Linked DNA regions of Homo sapiens: all the other regions are linked to region 6. Evidence: fine-mapped expression QTL. A gene starts in region 6. Each other region holds a variant in brackets. All regions are shown on one strand. Distances are from middle to middle.

Region 1 (4,063 bases), 32 kb after region 6:
GACTCTGGGAGGCTGCAAGGCTGTGGCTGTGGCCATGGCCCAGTCTGGGGGCGGGGTGGCACCTGCAGGGTCCTTGTTGAGAGAGCTGGAGCCCCCTCCTATGCAGCCGGCTCTAGTGGGCTCTGCCTTCAAGCTCACAGCCCCATTTGGGGCACCGCCCCCCTACCGTGGGCGCCAGTTTGAGGATGGCTGTGGGCCCACTCTCTACCCTCCTGGCCCTTACGGTGGCCTGGACTGCACCTCCCCCCATCCCTGGGAACACAGTTCGAGGGCTCAGCACCAGCCGCCATGCCCCAGGACGCCGTCCCCACCTTTACCTTGGCCTTGCCCAGGAAATCCACGGGCTCCAAGTGCTTCAGGTGCCACCGGTGGGGCCGGAAGACCTCGCCCCTGGGGACCTGCCGTGGCGGCAGTGAGCCCCGTCTCTGGAGGGGGTGGGTATCCAGCAGATGCAGACGGGGTGACCAACCAGGCCTGCAGCCGCAGAGCCCCTGTGCCTTGGAGCAGAAGGGGCCGCTTGGGCCCCCCACCCCCTTCCCGCAGGTCACAGGAAGCCCCCGCCTGGCACCCGAAACTGGGCACTAGGGCCATCTCCCTCCGGAAGCTTCTTCATCTCATGAAATTGGTCTTGAGGAGCTTTGGTAGGCACCAGCCCAAAACCATGACCGGGCTGGCACTCCTCACCTGCACTTGGTCCAGGGCTGAGTCCAGGCCATTCAGGGACCCCTCCGGCCACTTGGACATGGCCTCCCTTAGGCTGCTGGCCGCCTCTGTCCAGAGCCCCAGCTGGCACTGTGCCGACGCCACATTGTGTAGCACCTGGGAGTGGGGCCAAGGTGATGGCAGGGGCCTGATGCCCCACCCAGGCCCTCTCCCGGTTCCCCCACCCAGCTCCTCCCTCGGTCTGCCCACCCAGCCCCTCCCCCAGTCCCCCCACCTGGCCCCTCCCCCATCCCCCCACCCAGCCTCTCCCCCAGTCCCCCCACCTGGCTTCTCCCCCGTCTCCCCACCCAGCTCCTCTCCCAATCCCCCCACCCGGCCCCTCCCCTGCACCGTTCTGTGTCCTGGGCTGGCGGGCCCCCACCTGGCTTTAACCCTGACTCCAGACCCACACCAGTGGGCTTTCCCTTCCATCTTTTTGTCCTAAAAGACAATGCTATTCCCAGAAGGCTTCAGGGCGATGCATTTCCGGGGTCTGGTGGGGGGGCCTCTCAGCACCCCTCCTTCGGTGCCAACACGTTCCAGGCAGCCAGGAAAGGGCTGGGGGCACAGTGGAGGGTGGGCACAACCCCCTGCCTGCTCCCTGCCCACCCAGCAGCCTTTCGCCTCTGCCCTCCTTCTGGGTGGAGCCACCCCTGGTGGCCTGAAATGGCACAAAATGGTCCCTCCACCTCCACTGCCACCAGAACCTCCTGCGGGTCAAGGAGTGGCCAGGGTATTCCATGGCACCAAGAGCTTCGGCCAGAGGCGCTCCCCAGTCCACAGGGCCCTCCTGTGACAGTGCCACCGCCCGTGGACACCCCACAGCCAGCAGCACAGTGAGCCCTGCCCGGCCTCACCTCCCAGGCTTGCAGCTTGAACCGCAGGCCCAGCTGCGTGTAGTCGATGGCAGCGTGGCCCCTCAGCTGCTCCAGGGCCAGCCAGAAGTCAGACAGAGCCTCCTGGAACCTGTGGGCAGCCGGGGTCCCCTCAGCAGCACAGGGCGGAGATGGGGCTGTGGTTAGGCAGCTTTCACACCAGCCCCGCTCGAGCCGCCCCCAACACCTGGTTCCAAGGAGACCTGAGGGAGGGCAGTGCGGTGCCTAGGTCTGCACACTCAGGTCTGGTGGGCCAGGGGTCCATGCACATGTGTGCTGAGTGGGTGTGGGGGTCACTGTGTGCTGGGGCTCCACCATTTTCCCAGCTCAGACTCAGCTTCCTGGGCCCCTGCCCGCCCCCAAGCCTCTCTTCTGAACCGTGCAGAGAGCCCTGGTTATTTCCCTCCTGCTTCTCAGGCCCCCCACCCCATGGGGGCTCCCCCTCCAAACTCTGAGCCTCCTTCCAAGCCTTGCTGGGAGCTCCCCAGCGCCTGCC[G/A]GAGAGGCCTCTCCTCCAGGCGGGCTTCCCGCGCCGATGTGAAGGAGAGGCTGCCCCAGAGGGGTCTGGATCGTAATCCAGAAAGGGACAGTCCCACAGCCATAATCCCGAATGCTGGGACTCTTCAGTAAAGGAAGAGATGGCTTTTTCGTTCATCTGCCTTTCTGAAAGGTAAAATATCTCCAGATCCGGGCTCTCTGGGCGACTGCGTATGTGGTGGTCCCTGAAGCCTTTGATGGATCTTGTTAGAAGGTGGGTTGTTCATCTTGGTGTTTTGATGACCAGTTATAAAGCCAGGTGCACACAGTCACCAGCCAGAGTCTACGCACCTACGTCTTACCCCTTCTGACCTAGCTCCTCATGAGCACTGTTCATCTGCTCGTAGTTCTCACACCCGTGAGCCTGTCGCTAGCGTGCATGAATTTGTGCTTGAAAAAATATGTATGTTATTTTTGTCTATTTTATCGGCCAATGAAGGGTTCCGTCGTGTTTTTATGTTTCTCAAATAAATCCCTTTAAAATATGTAAATAGGCTGGGCGAGGTGGCTCATTCCTGTAATCCCAGCACTTTGGGAGGCCGAGGCGGGTGGATCACCTGAGGTCAGGAGTTCGAGACCAGCCTGGCCAACATGGTGATGCCCAGTCTCTACTAAAAATACAAAAATTAGCCAGGCGTGGTGGCACATGCCTGTAATCCCAGCTACCCGGGAGGCTAAGGCAGGAGAATCGCTTGAACCCAGGAGGCGGAGGTTGCAGTGAGCCGAGATCGCACAATTGCACTCCAGCCTGGATGACAGAGCAAGGCTCCTTCTCAAAACAATTTTTAAAAAGTAAATAAATATCTTTTACAGAATTTTATTTTTTCTAGAATTATATTTTTTGGGATTTTAGATTTGAGGGGTTTTGATATTTCAGGATTGCGAGGCTCTCGGGACTGTGATCCACTTCCCCACAGAGCCTGCCCTCCTGGGATGGGGCCTGTGAGTGTCTAGCAGAGAGGCCGAGGCATGGCCTGGTCTGCAGTCCCGATGGTCTCCTTTCCCTCATTCCTCCTTTAGGAAGGGACATGGTGCAGAGAGCCCAGGTAAGCAGTGAGGACCCCACGACCTGTGTCCAAGGGTGGCGCTCAGCAGAGGCGAGGGCCACAGTCTCAGGTTTCCCTGGAGCCAGGAACCATGGAGGAGGGGGTGGGCAAGAGGAGGGAGTGGATGGAGAGGGAGGAGGAGGAGGTGCAGGAGTGGACTCTGCAGGGAGACAAAGGGCCGTCAGAGAAGGAACAAGGCACCCCTGTACTCACCTTGCCAGCTGGAAGTTGGCCACTCCTCGCTGGAAGAAGCCAACCGCCATGCAGGTGTCCTTGGTCACGGCTTGGTCAAATGCCTGGGGACAAAAATGCCCACGGGATGCCAAGGTCTGTAACCTGGTCACGCAGCATCACAGATACAGCGTGATGGGTGACAGGGCCACGGAATTCCGTCAGCCCCTGGGGACCCCCCACAGCCCCTCCTGCTCCTGTCCAGGAACCTTCGGAGCCCCTGCCTGGGCAGGGCTGTCGCCACTCAGGTTGCCACAGCCCACCCAACCCCAACCCGTCCAAGGCGCAGAGCCCACTGAGGTGCTGCTAAAACCAATGTGTTTACCATGAGCACAAGGACAGAGGCCAGAAAAAAGTGTTCCAGTATGTTAATAATAGTTACCTCTGGGGAGTGGGGTTATGCAAGATTTTTGTCTTTTAAAAATCCTTTTTTTTTTTTTTGAGACGGGGTCTCGCTCTGTCACCCAGGCTGGAGTGCAGTGGCTCGATCTTGGCTCACTGCTGCCTCCGCCTCTGGGTTCAAGACATTCTCAAACTCCTGACCTCAGGCAACCTTGGCTGTCACATACTGGAGACGAGATAACGCAGTCCAGATCCCAGAGTCAGCAGCTAAAGAACTGCATTACAGGCCGGGCATGTTAGCTCACGCCTGTAATCCTAGCATGTTGGGAAGCT
Region 2 (4,071 bases), 130 kb after region 6:
TAGCTCCCGTGTAGCTCCCGTGTAGCCCCGTGTAGCTCCCGTGTAGCTCCCGTGTAGCCCCGTGTAGCCCCGTGTAGCCCCGTGTAGTCCCGTGTAGCTCCCGTGTAGCTCCCGTGTAGTCCCGTGTAGCCCCGTGTAGCCCCGTGTAGCTCCCGTGTAGTCCCGTGTAGCCCCGTGTAGCCCCCTGTAGCCCCGTGTAGCTCCCGTGTAGCCCCGTGTAGCCCCGTGTAGCTCCCGTGTAGCCCCGTGTAGCCCCGTGTCGTCCCGTGTAGCCCCGTGTAGCCCCGTGTAGTCCCGTGTAGCTCCCGTGTAGCCCCGTGTAGCCCCGTGTAGCTCCCGTGTAGCTCCCGTGTAGCCCCGTGTAGCCCCGTGTAGCCCCGTGTAGTCCCGTGTAGCCCCGTGTAGTCCCGTGTAGCTCCCGTGTAGCCCCGTGTAGCCCCGTGTAGCCCCGTGTAGCTCCCGTGTAGCCCCGTGTAGCCCCGTGTAGCCCCGTGTAGTCCCGTGTAGCTCCCGTGTAGCCCCGTGTAGCCCCGTGTAGCCCCGTGTAGTCCCGTGTAGTCCCGTGTGACCCTGTGTAGTCCCGTGTAGCCCCGTGTAGTCCCGTGTAGTCCCGTGTAGCCCCGTGTAGCCCCGTGTAGTCCCGTGTAGTCCCGTGTGACCCTGTGTAGTCCCGTGTAGCCCCGTGTAGTCCCGTGTAGTCCCGTGTAGCCCCGTGTAGTCCCGTGTAGTCCCGTGTAGCCCCGTGTAGTCCCGTGTAGTCCCGTGTAGTCCCGTGTGACCCTGTGTAGTCCCGTGTAGCCCCGTGTAGTCCCGTGTAGTCCCGTGTAGTCCCGTGTAGCCCCGTGTAGTCCCGTGTAGTCCCGTGTAGCCCCGTGTAGTCCCGTGTAGTCCCGTGTAGCTCCTGTGTAACTAGTCTGTTTCTTCCCTTTGACCCGTTTCCTTTGGTTTTTTCCCGTATATTTACTTTATTTACCAGTTGTGTTTGTTTTTACTTTTGTTTTTACTCATCATATAGGTGTATATTAGTTGTTTTTACTCATCATATGAGTGTATATTAGTTGTTTTTACTCATCATATGAGTGTATATTAGTTGTTTTTACTCATCATATGGGTGTTTATTCGTTGTTTTTACTCATCATATGAGTGTATATTAGTTGTTTTTACTCATCATATGGGTGTTTATTCGTTGTTTTTACTCATCATGTGGGTGTTTATTTGTTGTTTTTACTCATCATGTGGGTGTATATTTGTTGTTTTTACTCATCATATGGGAGTATATTAATTGTTTTACTCATCATATTGGTGTATATTAGTTGTTTTTACTCATCATGTCGGTGTTTATTCGTTGTTTTTACTCATCATATGGGTGTATATTAGTTGTTTTTACTCATCATATGGGAGTATGTTAGTTGTTTTTACTCATCATGTGGGTGTTTATTCGTTGTTTTTACTCATCATATGGGAGTATATTAGTTGTTTTACTCATCATATGGGTGTATATTAGTTGTTTTTACTCATCATATAGGAGTATATTAGTTGTTTTACTCAGCATATGGGAGTATATTAGTTGTTTTTACTCATCATGTGGGTGTTTATTCATTGTTTTTATTCATCATGTGGGAGTATATTCGTTGTTTTTACTCATCATATGGGTGTATATTAGTTGTTTTTACTCATCATGTGGGTGTATATTTGTTGTTTTTACTCATCCTATGGGAGTATATTAGTTGTTTTTACTCATCATGTGGGTGTATATTTGTTGTTTTTACTCATCATATGAGTGTATATCAGTTTTTTACTCATCATATAGGTATATATTGGTTGTTTTTACTCATCATATGGGTGTATATTTGTTATTACCACGAAGTAACTACTTTCTGTTTCCCTTTTTTTCTTTCTTTTTGTGGTAAAACATACATAACACGAAATTGACCATTTTAACCATTTTTAAGTGTACAATTCAGTGGCATTAGCACATTCACTGTATCACATATCCATCACCACCACCCCTTTCCAGAACTGGGTATCATCCCAAAGACTCCATACTGGCCGGGCGCGGTGGCTCACACCTGTAATCCCAGCACTTTGGGAGGCCGACGCGGGCGGATCACAAGGTCAGGAGGTCGAGACCATCCTGGCTAACATAGTGAAACCCTGTCTCTATTAGAAATACAAAATATCAGCGGGCCGTGGTGGAGGGCGCCTATAGTCCCAGCTACTCAGGAGGCTGAGGCAGGAGAATGGCGTGAACCCGGGAGGCAGAACTTGCAGTGAGCCAAGATCGTGCCACTGCACTCCAGCCTGGGCGACAGAGCAAGACTCTGTCTCAAAAAAAAAAAAAAAAGACTC[C/T]GTACCAATAGTTATCTCCCCTCCCCTCCTTCTAGCCCTGGTGGCCACTGTTCCACTTTCTGCCTCTATGAATTGACCTGTCCTAGGTACCTCGTAGACGTGGAATCATATAGTATCTGCCCATTTGTATCTGGCATCTTTCACTCGGCGTGTCGTAAGGGTTTATTCACGACGTAGCCTGTGTCGGAACGTCCTTCCTTTTTTTTTTTGAATGTGGCTGCTACGAACACTGATGTATGAGGATGTGCTTGAGTTCCTGCTTTCAGTTCTTTTGCATATACAGCTAAAGGTGAAACTGCTGAATCCTCTACTGACTCTGTGTTTAACTTCTTGAGGAACCTTCACACTGTTTTCCACGGCGGCCACACCATTTACCTTCCCGCCAGTGACGCATGAGAGTTCAGTTTATCCACATCCCACCAACATTTATTTCCCTTTTTTTTTATAAAGGCCACCCTAATGGATGTGATGTCTCACTGTGGTTTTTATTTGCATGTCGCTCATGACGAATAATGTAGAGCATCTTTTCATGTGCTTATTGGCCACGCGTATATCTTTGAAGAAGTGTCTATTTAAGTCCTTTGCCAACTGTTTTTTTTCTTTTTGAGATAAGGTCTCACTTTGTTACCCAGGCTGGAGTGCAGTGACACGATCACAGCTCACAGCAGCCTCAGCCTCCCAGGCTCAGGCCATCCTCCCGCCTCAGCCTCCCAAAGTATTGGGATTACAGGCGTAAGGCACCGTGCCCTGCCCTTCAATTTTTAAACTGGATTATTTGCTTTTCTGTTGTTGAATTATAGGGTTCCTCCTATACTCTGGATATCAACCCCTCGTCAGATACGTGATTTGCAAATACCGACGTCTCCACCCTGAGGTGTTTTATTCCTCCAGAGTGTCCTACGTGTACATTTCACTGTAATGAGGGTCCAGTCGCTCCAGTGTTTCTTTTGCTGCCTTTGCTGCGGTGTCATATCGAAGAAATCCTGGCCAAATACAGCGCCAGGAAGTGTTCCCCTGTGTCTTCTTCTAAGAGTCTTTTTTTTTTTTTTTTTGAGACAGGTTCTCACTTTGTAGCCCAGGCTGGAGTCTGATGGCGCAAACACGGCCCACTGCAGCCTTGACCTCCCGGCTCAGGTGATCATCCCACGTCGACTTCCTAAGTAGCTGGGACTACAGGCACGCCTGGCTAGTTTTTTTATTTATTGCAGAGATGGGGTTTTGCTCTGTTGCCCAGGCTGGTCTAGGACTCCTGGACTCAAGCAATCTACCCATCGCAGCCTCCCAAAGTGCTGGGATTACAGGCACGAGCCGCCTTGCCCAGCCTCTTCTAAGAGTTTTATAGTATTAGCTCTGATGTTTTTGAGTTGGTCTTGCACTCTTAAAGATAACTAACGATTTGGCCGGGTGCGGTGGCTCACACCTGTAATCCCAGCACTTTAGCAAGCCAAGGCAGACAGATCACCTGAGGTCAGGAGTTTGAGACCAGCCTGGCCACCATGGAGAAACCCCGTCTCTACTAAAAATACAAAAATTAGCTGGGTGTGCTGGTGCATGCCTGTAGTCCCAGCTACTTGGGAGGCTGAGGCATGAGAATCGCTTGAACTCGGGAGGCAGAGCTTGCAGTGAGCCGAGATTGTGCCACTGCACTCCAGCCTGGGCGACACAGTGAGACTCCATCTCAAAAAAAAAAAAGTTAACTGATGATTTTAAGGAACCATTCTG
Region 3 (4,000 bases), 20 kb after region 6:
ACCGAGACAGACCCGCGGGTGGGAGATGCGGGGAGACCCTGGGCGGGGGACCCGAGGGTGGAGTGGGCGGGGCGACCTTGGGCGCTGGCCTCAGCCTGCGGGCCCTGGAGCCAGGTGCACAGCGCATCGCCCGAGGCTGTCACCGCCCTGCCCCGCCCACCCCAGCTGTCCTGGACCCAGGGGCAGGGAGAGGCTGGACGCCAGGTGCGCGGACACAGAAGCGTCTAAGCACAGCTTCCTCCTTGCCGCTCCGGGAAGTGGGCAGCCAGCCCAGGTGAGGGTCCAAAGGGATGTCCTGGGGGGGCTGTCCTGGTCTGGGGGGCTGTCCTGGTCTGGGGGGCTGTCCTGGTCTGGGGGGCTGTCCTGGTCTGGGGGGGCTGTCCTGGTCTGGGGGGCTGTCCTGGTCTGGGGGGGCTGTCCTGGTCTGGGGGACTGTTCTGTCTGAGGGGGTGTCCTGGTCTGGGGGGGCTGTCCTGGTCTGGGGGGCTGTCCTGGTCTGGGGGGCTGTCCTGGTCTGGGGGGCTGTCCTGGTCTGGGGGGGCTGTCCTGGTCTGGGGGGCTGTCCTGGTCTGGGGGGGCTGTCCTGGTCTGGGGGACTGTTCTGTCTGAGGGGGTGTCCTGGTCTGGGGGGGCTGTCCTGGTCTGGGGGGCTGTCCTGGTCTGGGGGGCTGTCCTGGTCTGGGGGGGGCTGTCCTGGTCTGGGGGGCTGTCCTGGTCTGGGGGGGCTGTCCTGGTCTGGGGGGCTGTCCTGGTCTGGGGGGGCTGTCCTGGTCTGGGGGACTGTTCTGTCTGAGGGGGTGTCCTGGTCTGGGGGGGCTGTCCTGGTCTGGGGGGCTGTCCTGGTCTGGGGGGGCTGTCCTGGTCTGGGGGGGGCTGTCCTGGTCTGGGGGGCTGTCCTGGTCTGGGGGGGCTGTCCTGGTCTGGGGGGCTGTCCTGGTCTGGGGGGGCTGTCCTGGTCTGGGGGACTGTTCTGTCTGAGGGGGTGTCCTGGTCTGGGGGGCTCTCCTGGTCTGGGGGGGGCTGTCCTGGTCTGGGGGGCTGTCCTGGTCTGGGGGACTGTTCTGTCTGAGGGGGTGTCCTGGCCTGGGGGGCTCTCCTGGTCTGGGGGGGGGCTGTCCTGGTCTGGGGGGCTGTCCTGGTCTGGGGGGGGCTGTCCTGGTCTGGGGGCTGTCCTGGTCTGGGAATCTGTTCTGTGTGAGGGGGTGTCCTGGTCTGGGGGGCTCTCCTGGTCTGGGGGGGGCTGTCCTGGTCTGGCGGGGGCTGTCCTGGTCTGGGGGGCTGTCCTGGTCTGGGGGGCTGTCCTGATCTGGGAGTCTGTTCTGTGTGAGGGGGTGTCCTGGTCTGGGGGGGCTGTCCTGGTCTCAGGGACTGTTCTGTGTGAGGGGATGTCCTGGCCTGGGGGACTCTCCTGGTCTGGGGGGGCTGTCCTGGTCTGGGGGGGCTGTCCTGGTCTGGGGGGCTGTCCTGGTCTGGGGGGGCTGTCCTGGTCTGGGGGACTGTTCTGTCTGAGGGGGTGTCCTGGTCTGGGGGGCTCTCCTGGTCTGGGGGGGGCTGTCCTGGTCTGGGGGGCTGTCCTGGTCTGGGGGACTGTTCTGTCTGAGGGGGTGTCCTGGTCTGGGGGGCTCTCCTGGTCTGGGGGCACTGTCCTGGTCTCGGGGGGGCTGTTCTGGTCTGGGGGGCGCTTTCCTGGTCTGAGGAGCTGTTCTGATCTGGGAGGCTGTTCTGGTCTTGGGGGTCTTTTGAGTGTGGGAGAGGTTGCCCCAACCTCTTTGCCTACCTGGAGGCTCAGGCCTGGGGGTCTCAGGTGGCTACATCTTCTGGGTGTGGAGTCCCTGTGTTCCTGGCCCCTGTCACCTGTTTGTCCCTATGAGGTGGCCTATGGCCTGGGTGCTGGTTGGGGACACAGGCTGGGCCCTGTCTGGGCTGGACCGGCCTCCTGTCCTCTCTGAGCCTCTGTCATCTACCCTCCTTAAAATGGGCTTATATCCCCCGGACATACAGAATTGCGTGAGGACCCCACAGCGTGTCCCACTTTCCACGTGCCCAGGAGCCCCAGGTCAGGACCAGGGCAGCACCCGCGCCTGCCACTCAGTGTGGGTGCAACGTTTCCCGGGGGAACACGATAGGACACGGTCACATGGGGTTCAGGTGCCGGGACCTTGGCAGGCAGCCTCTGGCTTTGACCACTCCTTTGGCAGTGGTACCCGTGTGAAGTGGGGCTGTATGGGGCACAGGGTCGGCCTGGGGTAGTTTGAGAGCTGAGACCCTTGCTGGGCGTTTGGGCAGAGGAGGAGGTGGACACCTCGGCCACAGGGCTAGAGAAGCCCAGGCCCCTCAGATGGCATCCCTGGGTCCACCTCCCGACCAGGCGCCATCTGGCACCAGCTAAGAAGGTGCAGAGTCAGATTAGGGAAGCCTTGGGCTGGATTTCCAGAGAAACCGATGTTGTTAAGAAGCCTCACACTCGGCTT[C/T]CTAGGATGGCTGGCCTCACCCTGGGTTCACCCACAGCCCCTCGGCAACAGTCCCCTCAGGGCTCCAGAGAGAAACCCCCACCCTAGGAGTGCCTGGGGTGGGGGCCGCAGAGAGGAGGCAGAGCCCTGGGCCCCCAGTGCAGGCTGGAGCTGTGGCTGCTCCTGGGGAGGGTGGCACGGGAGAGGCAGGACCGAGGGGTGGGGACACAGGGTGGCCCCATCACATGGTGGGGGCAGCTCCGCGAGTCCCATCCGAGGGGGTCCGAGGGGGCTACTTGGATCCTGCTGGGGCTGTGTCCCCAGACGAGGCCTCTGCTGCCCCCCGCCCCCCTCCCACAGGGCCCTCTGATGCCCATGGCACCCCTGGCAGGCGTGGCTCCTGGGGAGTGGTCCTTGGCCACGGGAGGCGTCTGAGCCCCGGGGATGCCTCTATGGCCACGGGAGACCGTCTGAGCCCCGGGGATGCCTCTATGGCCACGGGAGGCCGTCTGAGCCCCGGGGATGCCTCTATGGCCACGGGAGGCCGTCTGAGCCCCGGAGATGCCTCTATGGCCACGGGAGGCCGCCTGAGCCCCGGAGATGCCTCTAAGGCCACGGGAGACCGTCTGAGCCCCGGGGATGCCTCTATGGCCACGGGAGGCGTCTGAGCCCCGGAGATGCCTCTAAGGCAAGTGGCTGTCCAGGGGTGCGTCTCCAGGGAGACGGGGAGCGAAGCCTCTGCCTCTGGAGGGCGGGATGGGGACACCAAGTGCAGCCTGGGTGCCCACGGCCGTCCCCCCACAGGAACCAGTACCACCTGCACCATGGGGCTGTCCCGGAAGGAGCAGGTCTTCTTGGCCCTGCTGGGGGCCTCGGGGGTCTCAGGCCTCACGGCACTCATTCTCCTCCTGGTGGAGGCCACCAGCGTGCTCCTGCCCACAGACATCAAGGTGCGTCCCCGCCGGCAGGGGAGGCCGGGCCGGGTCCACAGGTGTTGCCTCCCACTCATCCCACTGTCTCCCCAGTTTGGGATCGTGTTTGATGCGGGCTCCTCCCACACGTCCCTCTTCCTGTATCAGTGGCTGGCGAACAAGGAGAATGGCACGGGTGTGGTCAGCCAGGCCCTGGCCTGCCAGGTGGAAGGTTAGTGGGCTGTTCTGCAGCCCGGTGCTGGGACCTGCCTGTTGCTGCCTGGCTGGGATTCCCAGCTGCACGGAAAGGGTTTGGAGAGGTTCAGTGACTTGGCTGAGCTCACACGCCGGGCATGGGTGCTGGGCCGGAGCCTGCGTTCACGCGGTGGCACTCTGGGGACCTCCCTGCCTGATCCTGGTGAGCAGTCAGATTCTCATGGCCTGGCCTGGGTCTGCCCAGCATCTGCTGCCTCCAGCCCTGACCCTCTCTGGCCCCTGGTGCTCCCCACCCTGGCACCACGTGGTGCTGGCAGCCGAGGCTGGTAGTTACAGGGGTGCCTGCACTCCAGGATCCTGAGAGGGGAAAACAGGAGGCCCCGAATTTGTTTCCTGGGGGCTCTGGTAACAAATTACCACAAA
Region 4 (4,071 bases), 59 kb after region 6:
TATGTTTAAAAAGGGAAACAGCATAAAAATTCAGAAAATGTGCAACCTGACGCAGTAGAAAAGAAAAACCAATTTTTTCAGGAGAAATTCAAGCCGGCTGCAGAAATTTACATAAGTAGCAAGGAGGCTAATGTTCATCCCCAAGACCATGGGGAAAATGTCTCCAGGTCATGTCAGAGACCTTCATGGCAGCCCCTCCCATCATAGGCCTGGAGGCCCGGGAGGAAAAAGTGGTTTTGTGGGCTGGGCCCAGGGTCCCTGTGCTGTGTGCAGTCTAGGGACTTGGTGCCCCATGTCCCAGACACTCCAGCCGTGGCTGAAAGAGGCCAACATAGAGCTCGGGCTGTGGCTTCAGAGGGTGGAAGCCCCAAGCCTTGGCAGCTTCCACGTGGTGTTGAGCTTGTGGGTCCACAGAAGTCAGGAAATGAGGTTTGGGAACCTCTGCCTACATTTCAGAAGATGTTTGGAAATGCCTAAATGTCCAGGCAAAAGTTTGCTGTGGGGCGGGGCCCTCATGGAGAACCTCTGCTAGGGCAGTGCAGAAGGGAAATGGGTGGGGGCCGGGCACGGTGGCTCACACCTGTAATCCCAGCACTTTGGGAGGCCGAGGCAGGCAGATCACAAGGTCAGGAGATCAAGACCATCCTGGCTAACACGGTGAAACCCCGTCTCTACTAAAAATACAAAAATATTTAGTCGGGTGTGGTGGCGGGCATCTGTTGTCCCAGCTACTTGGGAGGCTGAGGCAGGAGAATGGTGTGAACCCGGGAGGTGGAGCTTGCAGTGAGCTGAGATCGCGCCACTGCACTCCAGCCTGGGCAACAGAGTGAGACACCATCTCAAAAAAAAAAAAAAAAAAAGGAAATGGGTGGGAGCCCCCACACAGAGTCCCTACTGGGACACTGCCTAGTGGGACTGTGAGAAGCAGGCCACTGTCATCCAGATGCCAGAATGGTAGATCCACCGACAGCCTGCACCATGTGCCTGGAAAAGCAGCAGACACTCAACACCACCTGTGAAAGCAGCTGGGAGGGAGGCTGTACCATGCAGAGTCACAGGGGTGGAGCTGCCCAAGACCATGGGAACCCACCTCTTGCATCAGCATGACCTGGATGTGAGACCTGGAGTCAAAGGAGATCATTTTGGAGCTTTAAAATTTGACTGCCCTTCTGGATTTCAGACTTGCGTGGGCCCTGTAATCCCTTTGTTTTGTCCAATTTCTCCCATTTGGAACTTTTTTTTTTTTTTGAGATGGAGTCTCGCTCTGTTGCCCAGGCTGGAGTGCAATGGCGCGATCTCGGCTCATTGCAACCTCCACCTCCCAGGTTCGAGTGATTCTCCTGCCTCAGCCTCCCAAGTAGCTGGGACTATAGGTGGGTGCCACCACGCCCGGCTAATTTTGTATTTGTAGTAGAGACAGGGTTTCTCCATGTTGGTCAGGCTGGTCTCAAACTCCCGACCTCAGGTGATCCACCCTCCTCGGCCTCCCAAAGTGCTGGGATTATAAGAATGAGCCACCATGCCCGGCCCAGAATGGCTGTATGTACTGAATACCTGTACCCCCATTGTATCTAGGAAGTAACTAACTTGCTTTTGATTTTACAGGCTCATAGGCGGAAGAGACTTGCCTTGTCTCAGATCAGACTTTGGACTGTGGACTTTTGGGTTAATGCTGAAATCAGTTGAGACTTTGAGGGACTGTTGGGAAGGCATGATTGGTTTTGAAATGTGAGGACGTGAGATTTGGAGGGGCCGGGACGGAATGATGTGGTTTGGCTGTGTCCCCACCCAAATCTCAACCCGAATTGTATCTCCCAGAATTCCCACGTTATGGGAGGGACCCAGGGGGAGTAATTACATCATGGGGGCCAGTTTTTCCCATGCTATTCTTCTGATAGTGAGTAAGTCTCATGAGATCTGACGGGTTTATCAGAGGTTTCCTCTTTTGCTTCTTCCTCATTTTCTTTTTTTTTTTTTTTTTTTGAGATGGAGTTCTGCTCTGTCACCCAGGCTGGAGTGCAATGGTGCAGTCTCAGCTCACTGCAACCCCTGTTCCCAGGTTCAAGTGATTCGCCTTTCTCCGCCTCCTGAGTACCTGGGAGGCACCACCACCACGCCTGGCTGCTTTTTGTATTTTTAGTAAAGACAGGGTTTCGCCATGTTGGCAGGCTGGTCATGAACTCCTGACCTCAGGTGAACTGCCCGCCTCAGCCTCCCAAAGTGCTGGCATTACAGGAGTGAGCCACTGTACCCGGCTCTCATTTTCTCTTGCCACCACCATGTAAGAAGCGCCTTTCGCCTCCCACCATGATTCTGAAGCCTCCCCAGCCATGTGGAACCATAAGTCCAATTAAACCTCTTTTTGTTCCCAGTTTCAGGTATGTCTTTATCAGCAGCGTGAAAATGAACTAATATGGGGGTTAGGAAGAGAAGCCAGGAATAAGAGAGGAGACCCTTGTAAAAAGCTTCAGAAAACCAGAACTCGTGGATAGTATTAAATTTGTGATAGCAGAAATGAA[C/A]CTTTCAGTGAGAGGGTTGCAAAATAAAGTTCAGGAAATCTCCCAAAAAGGCAGAGAAGGAAAGATGAGAAGACAAAGTAATTCTCAGGAAGTGTAAGTTCTAAACAGCAGGAGTTCCTGAGGACAGAACTGAGGGCGTGGAGGGCAGGACACCATCGGGAAGCCACATGCAGAAGGGTGGCCACGGAGCCCCCAGGGGACCACACCATGTCCGTCCTGCTGGGATCCGGCCACGGCCCCGGGGTCTCCCCAGAAGATGCTGGCACTCGAGTCAGGGGGCATCAGATTTCTCAGCAACCCCTGAGGCTAGAAGACAGTAGAGGGGCGTTACCATGACCGTCAGGAGAATGACCCCTGCCCCACAGCCACGCACAGCCAGGCTTCCAGTGGAGGTGCAGTGTGCGTGTGTCATGGGGACGTGGATGCGCCTGTGCCACAGGGACAGTCTGTGTATGTCACGGGGATGTCGGTGTGCACGTGTTACGAGGATGTTGGACGCGTGTCACGGGGACATGGTTGCCTGTGTGTCTTGGGGATGTGTCTTGGGGACGCGGGTGCACATGTGTCACGGAGACGCGGTTGCCTGTGTGTCTTGGGGACGCGGGTGCATGTGTGTCACGGGGACGCGGGTGCCTGTGTGTCTTGGGGATGCGGGTGCACGTGTGTCACGGGGACGCGGGTGCCTGTGTGTCACGGGGACGCGGGTGCCTGTGTGTCACGGGGACGCGGGTGCCTGTGTGTCTCGGGGACGCGGGTGCCTGTGTGTCTTGGGGATGCGGGTGCACGTGTGTCACGGGGACGTGGGTGCCTGTGTGTCTTGGGGACGCGGTCGCCTGTGTGTCTTGGGGACGCGGGTGCCTGTGTGTCTTGGGGACGCGGGTGCCAGTGTGTCTTGGGGACGCGGTTGCCTGTGTGTCTTGGGGACGCGGTTGCCTGTGTGTCTTGGGGACGCGGTTGCCTGTGTGTCTTGGGGACATGGGTGCACATGTGTCATGGGGACGTTCTCAGACAAGCAAAGGGCTACTCAGTGCTCCTCCCTTGCGGTTCTGCCTGAGGTGCTCCTGGAAAAGGTGCTCCCTTAGAACTAGGAGGTGAACTTCGGGGAGCACAGGGGACAAGAGGGAAGGGGGTCCAGGGTGAGCAGGGCTGCAGTGCAGCCATCCAGACGGAGGCAGGCAGAGGCTGGGGAATGGGTGTCTCCACAAAGCGTGTGAACCCCAGAGCCAGGCGTGCAGTGCTGCAGACGGGGCCGTTCACCAGGGGAACAGAGGGCGCCCGGCTGTGGACCGTGGAGCCACAGTTCCTTCTGTCTTTCCCCCTCGTTCTTTCAATCTGGTCCTTCTTTGATCTGTTTTCAGATTCACTGACTCATCTGCCATCCACCTGCTGTGAAGCACAGCCACTGAGTCAAACACATTTCAGTGATGACACTTTTTATTGCCGAGTTTCCATTTAGCTCTTTTATGTAGTTTCATATAATCTTCATTTCTCTCCTTTTACTCATTAAAACCATATTTTTTAACTTTATTCATGGTTTTTTGGGGTTTTCTTG
Region 5 (4,071 bases), 48 kb before region 6:
ACCAGCTAAACTCACTCATGCCAGCTAAACTCACTCACGCCGGCTAAACTCACTCGTACCAGCTAAACTCATTCGTACCAGCTAAACTCATTCATACCAGCTAAACTCACTCATGCCAGCTAAACTCACTCACGCCGGCTAAACTCACTCATACCGGCTAAACTCATTCGTACTAGCTAAACTCATTCGTACCAGCTAAACTCACTCGTACCAGCTAAACTCACTCACACCAGCTAAACTCACTTGTACCAGCTAAACTCACTCATGCCAGCTAAACTCACTCATGCCAGCTAAATTCACGCCAGCTAAACTCACTCGTACCCGCTAAACTCACTCATACCAGTTAAACTCACTCATGCCAGCTAACTCACTCATGTCAGCTAAACTCACTCATGCCAGCTAAACTCACTCATGCCAATTAAACTCATTCGTACCAGCTAAACTCACTCATGCCAGCCACACTTCAGGTGCTCACTGGCCGCCCATGGTTAGCGGCCACTTCCGGCCCAGCATGTGCTGCTCTCTGTCTTCTGGTGGGCGTGCAGTGGAGGCTGCCTGTGCTCTGATTCTGTCTTCTTGATGAACTGTGAGGCCGAGCACCTTGGATAGCCTTCTTTGTCTTTTGCCCATTTTCCTCTTAGCTTTCATTTTCTTATTATTAATAGGAATTCTTTATATATTCTCTGTATGATTCCTTTGTCAAGTATGTATATTAAAAATATTTTCTATTCACTTTTTACTATCGTAGTGGTGTCTTTTGATGAATAGGAAATTTTAAACTTAATGGGATCTAATTTATCAATATTTTTCTTTTGTGGTTAATATATTTTGTGTCCTGTTTAAGAAATCTGTCTGTAAGATTTAACGTTTTACCTTTCATATGATCCATCTAGAATTTATTCTTTTGTAGAAAGTGAGTAGGGGTCAAGATATATCCTTTTCTTTTTTCTTTTTCCTTTTCTTTTTTTTTTGAGACAGAGTCTCGCTCTTGTTGCCCAGGCTGGAATGCAATAGTGCGATCTCAGCTCACTGCAAGCTCCATCTCTGGGGTTCAAGCAATTCTCCTGCCTCAGCCGCCGAGTAGCTGTTAATTACAGGCGCCCACCACCATGCCCAGCTAATTTTTTGTATTTTTAGTAGAGACGGGGTTTCACCGTGTTAGCCAGGATGGTCTCGATCTCCTGACCTCGTGATCCGCCCGCCTCGTCCTCCCAAAGTGCTGGGATTCCAGGCGTGAGCTGCCGCGCCCGGCTGATACATCCTTTTCTAAATGGCTATCTAGTTGATCCACCACTTTTTCTTTTTCTTTTTTTGAGGTAAGGCCTTGCTCCATGGCCCAGGCTGGGGTGCAGTGGTGAAATCACAACTCACTGCAGCCTCGAGCTCCTGGGCTCAAATGATCCACCTGCCTCAGCCCATGAGGGCTCAAGTGATCCACCCGCCTCAGCCTCATGGGTAGCTGGGACCACAGGTGTGGCCCCCACACCTGGCTGGTTTTTAAAATTTTTGTAGATAGAGATCTCTTGCTGTGTTGCCCAGGCTGGTCTTGAATTCCTGGCCTCAAGCGCTGCCTCCACCTTGGCCTCTGAAAGTGCTGGGATTACAGGCATGAGCCGCTGCACCTGGCCCATTTATTTATGTATTTATTTTTAAGAGATGCAGTCTCTCACTATGTTGTCCAGGCCTCAAACTCCTGGGCTCAAGCGATCCTTCCGGCTTGGCCTCTTGAGCAGCAAGGACCACAGGTGCATACCACCATGCCTGGCCCCCGTATTTTATTTTATTTATTTATTTTGAGATGGAGTTTTGCTCTTGTCAGGTGCATACCACCATGCCTGGCCCCCGTATTTTATTTTATTTATTTATTTTGAGACACAGTTTTGCTCTTGTCACCCAAGCTGGAGTGCAATGGTGCGATCTCAGCTCACCGCAACCTCTGCCTCCTGGGTTCAAGGGATTCTCCTGCCTCAGCCTCCCGAGGACCTGGGGTAACAGGCATGTGCCACCACGCCCGGCTAATTTTGTATTTTTAGTGGAGACAGGGTTTCTCCATGTTGGTCAGGCTGGTCTCGAACCCCCAACCTTAGGCGACCTGCCTGCCTCAGCCTCCCAAAGTGCTGGGACTATAGGTGTGAGAAATTTTATCATTTAGCTACATGCTTGTTGACGTACAAGGTGTGGTCATTACACCCCAGTGTTCCCCTGTGTGGCTGCAGCCAGGTAAAGGGGCTGCTGCGCTCCTCTCGCCCAGCCCAGAGGGTCAGCCCCAGAGGAAGCACTGGTGACCTTTGTTGCCATAGATTGCTTTCCAGTTCGGATTTTTTTAAAAAACAGCAGGACTTGACGGGGGCATGAGTAATACACAGCACAGTGCACCGGGCTGAAGGGTGCCAGCTCCGTGAAACCCGACCAGCGCACCCTCAGCGTAAGCCTCGGAGACATGCGCCCCTTTCCAAGGCCCAGCGCTCCTGGCTCTC[T/C]GTGTCTGGCTTCCCAGGGAGGGGCACATGGCTGTGCTCCTGGGCCTGGTTCCTTCCCGCAGCGCCATGTGGCTGCGGCATCTGTGTGGCATGTGTCTGCGGTTAGTGTCTGCGCGGTTCCTCTGTATTCCGCTGAGAAATGGGTGTTGCGAATTCCAGTATGGATGGGAAACCGCAGTGCAGATGACTCGCTCGCATGCGCAGCTGCACACGAAGGGCTGGATCTGTGCCTGGAAGTGCGTGACCCCGTCGTGCAAAGCGTGCACCCTTCCTCAGAATCCACAGCAGCTGGTCCAGAGGTCAGATACGCTGTGTGTGTAGTGATGTGTAATGCTGAGGGCAGGCTGTAAAAGGGTGCACACTGCTTCATCCCGCTCAGCCCGAGGCCGCCCAAAAGCAGCAACAGGGGAGCTCTTTGGAGGGGGTGCCTCAACCCCCTCCCTCCAAGATGGGGCTGGACTGCGAAGAGCGAACCTCTGAGATGGGGCTGGGACTGCAAAGAGCCAAGCCCAAAGCACCAGCGTGACGGCCCAGGGCACCCGTTAGGGGAGCTCACATACAGAGGGCGGCAGCATCCCTGAGATGGACAGCAAGAGAAAGGGTGCTCTACCCAGGGTTGGCCGCAGCGAGCCGTCAGGGTGTGGCACGCATGGCAAGGTTTGAGGAATTTGGCTCAGGACCAGGGCTGGTTTCCTTCCGTGTTTTAGGTACCGACCGGGCTACCTTTATCAGTGCCCAGAAATGTTGAAGGCACCGTGTGGGTTTAAGCTGCGGAGAAAACCTGTAGCTGGTGGGTCACAGAGCCATTGAGGCAGATGCCGAAAGAAAGCAGGGTGTGGAGGGATCTCAGGGCCCGACTCCCTCGAGGGAGCTGCCGGGGTCTGTGTGGTTAGACTGCAGGGTGTGCTCAGCCCACACCGCGGACGTTTGTGTCAGTGGCCTAGCGAACCGTGTCCTGAGTGTCCCCTCTGTGTGTAGGGGGCCCAGGCAGTGCCACTTCTGATCTGGGGATGGCATGTGACCGTGCCAGGGTCTTCCTGCACTCGGACGAGCACCCCGGGAGCTCCGTGGCCAGCAAGGTAGGCCCTGGCTGTCATTCTCACCCTCCGCCTGGGGCCCCACCCTCTCCGTGGCTTGCTGGTGCATTGGGGGCGCCGCCGGCTTTGGTGTCATGTGGCACCTGCAGCTTCAGGAGGCTCAGCCGGCCTTTCCGCACTGTGCGATTCAGACCTGACCACACCCTTGTGCGATGTTCCCCAACCACATCCCTTCGAATTGCCGGTATCTCCGTTCTTCTCCAGTCCAGGAAAAGCGTGATGGTTGCAGAGATACCCTCCACGGTCTCCCAGCACTCAGAGAGTCACACGGATGAGACCCTGGCCAGCAGGAAGTCGGATGCCATCTTCAGAGCTGCCAAGAAGGACCTGCTCACCCTGATGAAGCTGGAAGTGAGTGGCCCCGGCGGGCACCTGGCCCTTGTCCCACCCAGGGCCCGTGGCCTCCTCTCTGCCTCTGTTGGGCAGTGGTTCCAGGTGTGGAGGACAGTGGCTGCAAAGGAGGTGTTTTGGGTGGAGTGCAGGCTTGCTTGTCTTTT
Region 6 (4,071 bases):
CGGGCACCACGTGTTCCCACAGCAGTGGGACTGTGACCACCCCGGGTCACCCAGCCCCTGCCCTTCATTCACCTCAACTCCCAGCCACACCTCAGGCCTGAAGTAGAACCACGTTTTGCCTCCCACCCCACCCAGTGGGAAATGGGAATGAAGGCTGCTTGTTGGAGGGGCCGCAGGACAAGAAGGGCGGGTCCACTACCCTCCATGCTCCATCCAGGGCCCTGCGCTTGGGCCTTCAGCCAGTGGCCTCCTCACAGCAGAACTGGACATTCTCCTGGGAGACGTCTTCATGGCTGCCGCAGGCCGAGAGGGCCCTGGGCAAGGCAGCCCCTATCCACAGTTGCCAGGTCTGGGGTGCTGGAGCCCTCAGGGTGCTTGGCTGACAAGGGGAGGAGTGTCTGCCCGCTCCTTGTCCTTGTGGAAGACCCACGAAGTGATGTGCTGGGGCAAAGCTGGAGCCAGACAGAACCAGGGGTGGTGTGCAGGGCTGCCCTGGGACCAGGTGGCTGCGTGTAGGGCCCCGGGCCACCTTGGAGGCGGGGGTGGGCATCTGTGGCCGGTTCTGCCTCTGAGTGTGGCTATGCTGGGTACGGTCCCTTCCTTGGGAGGGGACTGACGCAGCCCTACCCTCGGTGCCAGACGAATCTGACTACCAGACGGAGTACGAGGAGGAGCTGCTGGACGTCCCCAGGGATGCATACGCAGACTTCCAGAGCACCTCAGCCCAGCAGGGCTCAGACTTGGTGAGGAGCTGGGCATGGTCCCACCTGGTGCCCACAGCTGAGCCTTGGTGCCTGGCCCTGTGCCGGCCACTCCCTCCCTGTGGTCCCACCGGGTTACCAGCGCTGCAGAGCCCCTGCCCTGCCTGGTCCTCACCTGGAACATGCGGTCTGCTTGCAGGAGGACGAGTCCTCACTGCGGCATCGACACCCCAGTCTGGCTTTCCCAAAACTGTCTGAGGGCTCCTCTGACCAGGACGGGTAGAGGCCTCTGCTAAAGAGCCCGGATGCAGCGTCTTCCGTGGGACTGTCCCCAAGGCTGAGGCTCCTGCCAAGTCCTAGGGGCCTCTGTACCTGCCCTGCTGGAAGCCCTGACTTCCCCGGGGCCCCAGGCTGTGTTAGGGTTCTCTGGGCCTCTTCTTTGTACCAGCAGCCCTGCATACAGGGCCCTGTGAGCCCCCCTGCAGTCCTGTGAGGCCCCTGAAGCTCTGTGAGGCCCCTGAAGCTCTGTGAACCCCCTGCAGCCCTGTGAGGCCCCCCGAAGCCCTGTGAGGCCCCCCGAAGCCCTGTGAACCACCTGCTGCCCTGTGAGGCCCCCAAAGCCCTGTGAACTGCCTGCTGTCCTGTGAACTGCCTGCTGCCCTGTGAGGTGTGGGAGCCCTGATGCTGCCGTGTGATGTTTCAATAAAGGTGGATCTCACTGTTGGACGTGTCTCCCGGGCCGAGGTCCCTGTGGCAAAGAAACACTACTGGTTCTCCCTGATGCGGGTGGTCCCTGAGGCTGGGCAGTCCCCAGTCCTCCTCAAAGGACCCCACTGCTGGGGCCTGAGAGCCCTAGGGCGGCAAATGCAGGCCAGGCAGGTAGGGCGTCCAGAGTCTGCATAGAGCTGTGGCCCCCCAGGACCAGGACGGGCCCCTCTGTCTCTCTCTGGCCTCGTGCAAACTGGGTGCCCCCTAAACTGGCTTCCCCTTCGGTTTCCAGTTCCCAAACTGCACAGGGAGCCCTTTTGTGTAAGGGGAGGGAGAACCGGCCTCCCTGTGATCCTGCAGGTCTGAGCAGCAGATCGTGAGGGCCGAGGGCCCAGGACTTTGCGACCAGGGGGCCGCTGGCCTCAGTTTCCCCGCTCTGGAGGCCTGGACGAGAGGGCGCGGAGCCAGGCCGCCCGGCCCCGCCCCCAACTCAACCCGGGCCCGGACGTCACGGTGGGCGGGGCCACATGTCCTCTCCGAGCTCTCCGGGGCCCTGACGTCACGGTAGGTGGGGCCGACCGCCCCTCTGGGCCCGCCCGGGCCCTGACGTCACGATGGGCGGGGCCGGCCCTCGGTTCGGGCAGCGCTCTCCCGGGAGCGGCGGCACGCGCGGAGCGCCGGGTGCGGCCATGCGGGGACCGGGCCCGACCCCGAGCCCGACCCCGAGCCCAAGCCCGAGCCGGAGCCCGAGCGAGACCCCGAGCCCGAGCCCGAGCGCGACCCCCGGTGCGGCGCGGCTACCCCGGCGGAGGCGGCGGGCGCGGGGCGCGCTCTGAGGCCCGGGGGATGCGCCGCCGCCTCGACCATGGGCGCCGCCGCCTCCAGGAGGAGGGCGCTGAGGAGCGAGGCCATGTCCTCGGTGGCGGCCAAAGTGCGGTGAGTGCGGCGGGGCCGCCTTCCCGCACCCCGCCCTGGACCTCCGACCCCGCCCGAGTCCGCCCCTGCCCCGCGGTGCTCCCCGGGCTCCCGGGCCCCGGCCTCTGCCACTGAGGCGCCCTCCCCGCGCCCCGCGCCTCCCTCTTCCTGGTCCCCTGCCCTGCTCTTCCCTCCCCTCCCCTCGCGAGCGCGTGGTGGGCGAGCGCACCCCCCAGGTCGGGAGTGGCCTCGGTTCCCCCGGGGAACAGCAGCCGACCGGCCTCGCGACCCCTCTCCACGGTCCGACGGGCAGGGGCCGGGCCTGCAGGCCTGGCCAGGGCGCACCAGGACCAAGGGTGTGTGGGCTCCCGGAGGGGGACGACCCCGACCCTCCTTCCAGACGCCGAGGGCCTGGCTGGGGACCGGACCCCCGGCTCTTGCGCGGCCCGGTGTTTGGGAGGGTCGTGCCGTGGCCTCTGACCGTGCCCTCTGTCCACCCTCAGAGCAGCCCGAGCGTTTGGAGAGTACCTGTCCCAGAGTCACCCTGAGAACCGCAACGGCGCAGGTAGGGGCACGCGAGGCCGTGCCAGGGCCGCCCAGACCCCCCAGCCCAAGGGATGCTGATCCCTGCCTCCGGGGGTGGAGCGTGAGGGGCATTGGTTGCGCGTGGGCCCGGCGCCCTGCCGGCCTGGCTTCCTTACATCCCCTGCCCTCCCTGCCCGAGCCCCAGGAGCAGTTCCCAGCCGCTCGTCACCATGGCACCCACCCCGCCTGGGCCGTTGGCATGGCAACAGGCCTCCTGGCTCCCCCAGGGCTGGCACCACTGCCTCTGGGGGCCAGCTGGTGGGGGGAGGGGGAAGTTGGCACCAGGCAAACGGTGCGATCGCAGGCTGGGGGATGGCCTGCGTGTTCCTACCCGGCAGGACCGCACACAGGTAGCACAGCGTCACCCAGCCCCCACGCACATGCTAGAGCTTCAGGCCCAGATAGGAGTGAGGGGCTCAGAAACACGCCAGTGACTAGGGTTTGGGCAGCCCTAGTCCCCCACAGAGGCCAGGTGCCCACTGGGTGTTCTCTGCCTTCGGCCTGCTATGAAACCGGCAGCGGGGGGCCCACACGCGGCAGGCAGGCTCACTCAGTGTCTCTCCTAGATCACCTGCTGGCTGATGCCTACTCTGGCCACGACGGGTCCCCCGAGATGCAGCCGGCCCCCCAGAACAAGCGCCGCCTGTCCCTCGTCTCCAACGGCTGCTACGAGGGCAGCCTCTCAGAGGAGCCCAGCATTAGGAAGCCCGCAGGCGAGGGCCCTCAGCCTCGAGTGTACACCATCTCTGGGGAGCCTGCCCTGCTGCCCAGCCCTGAGGCGGAGGCCATTGAGCTGGCGGTGGTGAAGGGGCGGCGGCAGCGGCACCCTCACCATCACAGCCAGCCCCTGCGCGCCAGCCCTGGTGGCAGCCGGGAGGACGTCAGCAGGCCCTGCCAGAGCTGGGCGGGCAGCCGCCAGGGCTCCAAGGAGTGCCCCGGATGTGCCCAGCTGGCTCCTGGCCCCACCCCTCGGGCCTTTGGGCTGGACCAGCCACCTCTGCCTGAGACCTCCGGTCGCCGCAAGAAGCTGGAGAGGATGTACAGCGTTGACCGTGTGTCTGGTGAGGGGTTTGTGTCAGGGCATAGACAGGTTTGGGGGTGCATGCCGCTGCCAGGGTCTGACAGCAGCAGCCACTGTGAGGCTTGGAACAGAGAACAGGTG
Region 7 (4,071 bases), 140 kb after region 6:
GGCAGAGGCCACCCTGGAGGACAAAAGGGGCCTGGGGCAGGGCCACGATCCGGGGAGCTAGGGGGTGGCGAGCAGAGGTGGCCCAGTCCAGGAGCACGGAGCTGCCCCCTTTATGTGCTGGTCGCACCTCCCACACAGGTTGCCAGGCAGGAGGGGAGGATCATTCTGACGTCGGGGCAGCCATTCCACAAGGTGAGTGTCCCAAAGATAAGCTCAGTGGGCCTGAGCCCCATCTTCCCAAGCCCCCAGCCCCTCGGCCACCCCCACCTCAGGGTCAGCTTGCCGTGGGGCCGACCCCCAGCGCCTCTGCCGTACCCCTGGTGGGCCGAGAGAAGGCTCCTGCCCCATGCTGGCGGAGGCGGGCTGGGCCTGGGCAGGTGCTGGGCTCTGCACTGCCCCTCAGTAGCCGAGCCGTGTCTTTGCAGCTCCGGGCCCAGGTCGGGGCTGGGCGCTGCCTCTCGGTCGACTGCTCCCTGAAGGCCCAGCAGCAGGCCAAGGCTGTGCTCAAGCATTTCAACGTGCGTGTCACCCACGCAGACATCTTCAGCCGCTGCCAGGTGGGTCCTGCGCACCCCGTCCTACCTGGGGCTGGCACAAGATCTGGAGCTACGGGGGTGTCCAGGGAGGTGGGCCCCACCCTAGACAGTGGTGGGTCTGGGGTGGGGTGTCGGCAGAGCATCCCTCGTGGTCCAGGGTGAGGTGTCGGCAGAGCATCCCTCGTGGGTCCGGGGTGAGGTGTCGGCAGATCATCCCTCGTGGGTCCGGGGTGAGGTGTCGGCAGATCATCCCTCGTGGGTCCGGGGTGGGGTGTCGGCAGATCATCCCTCGTGGGTCCGGGGTGGGGTGTCGGCAGAGCATCCCTCGTGGGTCCGGGGTGGGGTGTCGGCAGAGCATCCCTCGTGGGTCCGGGGTGGGGTGTCGGCAGAGCATCCCTCGTGGGTCCGGGGTGGGGTGTCGGCAGATCACCCCTCGTGGGTCCGGGGTGGGGTGTCGGCAGATCATCCCTCGTGGGTCCGGGGTGGGGTGTCGGCAGAGCATCCCTCGTGGGCCCGGGGTGGGGTGTCGGCAGATCACCCCTCGTGGGTCCGGGGTGGGGTGTCGGCAGATCACCCCTCGTGGGTCCGGGGTGGGGTGTCGGCAGATCATCCCTCGTGGGTCCGGGGTGGGGTGTCGGCAGATCACCCCTCGTGGGTCCGGGGTGGGGTGTCGGCAGATCACCCCTCGTGGGTCCGGGGTGGGGTGTCGGCAGATCACCCCTCGTGGGTCCGGGGTGGGGTGTCGGCAGATCACCCCTCGTGGGTCCGGGGTGGGGTGTCGGCAGAGCATCCCTCGTGGGTCCGGGGTGGGGTGTCGGCAGAGCATCCCTCGTGGGTCCGGGGTGGGGTGTCGGCAGAGCATCCCTCGTGGGTCCGGGGTGGGGTGTCGGCAGAGCATCCCTCGTGGGTCCGGGGTGGGGTGTCGGCAGAGCATCCCTCGTGGGTCCGGGGTGGGGTGTCGGCAGAGAATCCCTCGGGGGTCCGCGGTGGGGTGTCGGCAGAGCATCCCTCGTGGGTCTGGGGTGGGGTGTCGGCAGAGAATCTCTTGGGGGTCCGGGGTGGGGTGTCGGCAGAAAATCCCTCGGGGGTCCGGGGTGAGGTGTCGGCAGAGCATCCCTCGTGGTCCGGGGTGAGGTGTCGGCAGAGCATCCCTCGTGGTCCGGGGTGAGGTGTCGGCAGAGCATCCCTCGTGGTCCGGGTTGAGGTGTCGGCAGAGCATCCCTCGTGGTCCGGGGTGAGGTGTCGGCAGAGCATCCCTCGTGGTCCGGGGTGAGGTGTCGGCAGAGCATCCCTCGTGGGTCCGGGGTGAGGTGTCGGCAGAGCATCCCTCGTGGGTCTGGGGTGAGATGTTGGCAGAGAATCCCTTGTGGGTCCGGGGTGAGGTGTCGGCAGAGAATCCCTGGTCCAGGGTGAGGCGTCGGCAGAGCATCCCTAGTGCAGGCTGGCATGGCCACGGGGACAGCTCCAATCAGGCATTGGCTTGGATTTGGGGAATTCCCTCTGGCTCCCATGGGGCTTCTAGAAGGAATCGAGGGAAATTGTGGAAGTCCCTTCAGGCTGGGTGGGTCCCACTTTCCAAAGGCAACACGCAGGACAGCCTGCGTCTGCTTGGTGACGTCTAACAAGGTCTGGGCAACAGAAGCCCTGAGTGGGAACTGCCGCACCTCGGTGGAGATCCATAGAGGAGGCTGGTGGGGGCACCAAAGCCCAACTCACCTCTCTCCCTCCTCTCCTGTCCCCAGTGGGGGACTGGGCTGAGGCACCTGCCCAGGGCTGCACTGTCCAAGCTTGCTATGCCCCACACCAACTGGCACCTGGGCATGGCCAGTCTGGGGGGAGTTGATGCTGCCTTTTGCGCCTCCACTCAAGGCGCCAGGGTCTCCGTGGGCGACACGGGAGCAAGGGGGACTGTGGGCTGTGCTGGCTCTCGGCAGTTCCCGGTGGAGGGTA[C/T]GGGCTGCTTCCAGAACGTTCCGCAGTTAGGGCCACATCAATATTCCGCCTGGAGCAGCAGGTCGGGGCTGCTCCAACAAGCCCAGTTTTGTTTCCTGGGGTTTTTTGGGGGTGGGACGGAGTCTCACTCCATCGCCCAGGCTGGAGTGTAGTGATGTAATCTCAGCTCACTGCAGCCTCCGCCTCCCAGGTTCAAGCAATTCTCCCACCTCAGGCTCCTGAGTAGCTGGGATTACAGGTGCCCACCACCACGGGCGGCTAATTTTTGTATTTTTAGTAGAGACAGGGTTTCACCATGTTGGTCAGGCTGGTCTTGAACTCCTGACCTCAGGTGATCTTCCTGCCTCAGCCTCCCAAAGTGCTGGGATGACAGGCGTGAGTAATCCCAGCCTCCCAAGCCCAATTCTGGGGGAAGTTTTGGGACCCCCTCATGGAGGGAGATCCCCTCATGGAGGCCACTGTCAGGGTCCCTGCTGGTGCCTGGGCTGGGCAGGGAGGGGCCCTGAGCTCAGCTCCACCCCATGGTCCTCAAGGGCACCCACCTGGCTGAGCAGAAACAGATGCAGGCCTGCGCCTTCTGCTACCGCCCTTCTGCCCCCACAGCCTCAGGCTGGGCCTGGCGGGGATTGAAGCAGGAAGGAAAGAGGGAAAGCTCCGGCTCGGCTCGGATCTGCAGCCGGCCAGGCACCTGTACACACAGGCCCCTGGACCTCCCACTGCCCCTGGCCTGGGGGTGCAGTCTGACCCTCTGACCCCACTGCCCTGCGGGGACCGCGGCCTCTGCCTCAGGTGGCAAGGAAGTGTGCTCCAGGGGCCTCTCCTGCAGCCTTGGGCTCCAGGGGCGGCAGGAACCGCGTCCGCTGCCTCTCTTTGTCTGTGCTCAGGCCAGCAAGCGCTGTAAAGACCCCAGGATGTCCGGGACGCCTGGGGAGGCATGTTAATGAGCTGTTCAGAATCGGCTGCTGCATTTTCTTGAGAAAACAGGAAGTTGGGTAGCTGGGAGGAAACCCCTGCTGGAGCCCTGGCCAGCCGGGTGCTGGGGAGTGCCCCTGAGGACCCAGGCCAGGCATGGAGGGGCCGCCAAGCCCTGCATGGAGAAGGGTGTCCAGGGTGTGAGGCAGAAGGGCAGACTTTGGCCTGGCTGAGTGGATGGGATGGGGGCGTCGGGGGCTGAGCAGTGGGGGCCGCCCTGACCCATGTCCGCCCTGCCTCTTTGCTGGCTACTGGCAGCTCCAAGCTGCTGATGCCACTCTGCCACCCACACCCTGCAACCCCCAAGCTGCCCCTGCTGTGGCAAGCAGGAGCGCCAGGCCCAGGGGGGCTGCAGGTAGAGCAGGCCTGGGAGGGGCTAAGGCCAGAGCTGCACCCCCGTGGGGGGCCAGCAACTGTCCAGGCTGGAGAGGGCAGCGCCAGCTGTCCAGGACCAAGGCAGTGAGGGAAGGAGCATCTGGATCTGAAAGACTGCAAACAGCCGGCGGGGAATTTGGCCTGGAGGGTACCCTGGGCCCTGGCTGCAGCCCCAGGCAGCGACCTGCCACCTGTGCCAGCCCCTCTGTCTGGGGGCAGGACGTGGGGAAGGGGCGGG

The links.
Region 1: its variant is fine-mapped to the expression of NSMF in whole blood (TOPMed, PIP above 0.99).
Region 2: its variant is fine-mapped to the expression of NSMF in whole blood (TOPMed, PIP above 0.99).
Region 3: its variant is fine-mapped to the expression of NSMF in whole blood (TOPMed, PIP above 0.99). The same link has a PIP of 0.9 or more in blood mononuclear cells.
Region 4: its variant is fine-mapped to the expression of NSMF in whole blood (TOPMed, PIP above 0.99).
Region 5: its variant is fine-mapped to the expression of NSMF in whole blood (TOPMed, PIP above 0.99).
Region 7: its variant is fine-mapped to the expression of NSMF in whole blood (TOPMed, PIP above 0.99).

The regions. Positions count from the first base shown.
Region 1 is chr9:137,425,638-137,429,700 of GRCh38, reverse strand. It overlaps NOXA1 (NADPH oxidase activator 1), which reads right to left. Exons shown (of 14, transcript NM_001256067.2): 2 at 3,371-3,453; 3 at 1,560-1,668; 4 at 685-819; 5 at 318-425. Among named protein-coding and RNA genes, the nearest start is that of NOXA1, 4.3 kb to the right of the region's middle. RefSeq lists an enhancer at 45-799. The variant G/A (reference allele first, on the strand shown) is at 2,074.
Region 2 is chr9:137,325,409-137,329,479 of GRCh38, reverse strand. The region is part of intron 17 of EXD3 (exonuclease 3'-5' domain containing 3); the gene reads left to right. Among named protein-coding and RNA genes, the nearest start is that of NRARP, 25 kb to the right of the region's middle. The variant C/T (reference allele first, on the strand shown) is at 2,350.
Region 3 is chr9:137,437,560-137,441,559 of GRCh38, reverse strand. It overlaps ENTPD8 (ectonucleoside triphosphate diphosphohydrolase 8), which reads left to right and starts at 203. Exons shown (of 10, transcript NM_001033113.2): 1 at 203-274; 2 at 3,255-3,400; 3 at 3,476-3,593. The coding sequence starts at 3,275. RefSeq lists a silencer at 49-343. The variant C/T (reference allele first, on the strand shown) is at 2,472.
Region 4 is chr9:137,397,942-137,402,012 of GRCh38, reverse strand. All of the region lies in intron 1 of EXD3 (exonuclease 3'-5' domain containing 3), which reads left to right. Among named protein-coding and RNA genes, the nearest start is that of EXD3, 23 kb to the left of the region's middle. The variant C/A (reference allele first, on the strand shown) is at 2,520.
Region 5 is chr9:137,505,468-137,509,538 of GRCh38, reverse strand. PNPLA7 (patatin like domain 7, lysophospholipase) reads left to right here. Exons shown (of 35, transcript NM_001098537.3): 13 at 3,456-3,556; 14 at 3,779-3,925. Among named protein-coding and RNA genes, the nearest start is that of PNPLA7, 43 kb to the left of the region's middle. The variant T/C (reference allele first, on the strand shown) is at 2,478.
Region 6 is chr9:137,457,306-137,461,376 of GRCh38, reverse strand. It overlaps NSMF (NMDA receptor synaptonuclear signaling and neuronal migration factor), which reads left to right and starts at 2,043. Exons shown (of 16, transcript NM_001130969.3): 1 at 2,043-2,345; 2 at 2,828-2,889; 3 at 3,476-3,970. The coding sequence starts at 2,275. PNPLA7 (patatin like domain 7, lysophospholipase) reads left to right here. Exons shown (of 35, transcript NM_001098537.3): 34 at 640-743; 35 at 901-1,425. The coding sequence ends at 984. RefSeq lists enhancers at 1-338, 3,162-3,859 and silencers at 1,813-2,162, 2,253-2,522.
Region 7 is chr9:137,320,211-137,324,281 of GRCh38, reverse strand. EXD3 (exonuclease 3'-5' domain containing 3) reads left to right here. Exons shown (of 22, transcript NM_017820.5): 18 at 139-192; 19 at 426-557. Among named protein-coding and RNA genes, the nearest start is that of NRARP, 20 kb to the right of the region's middle. RefSeq lists enhancers at 2,693-3,326, 3,327-3,961. The variant C/T (reference allele first, on the strand shown) is at 2,487.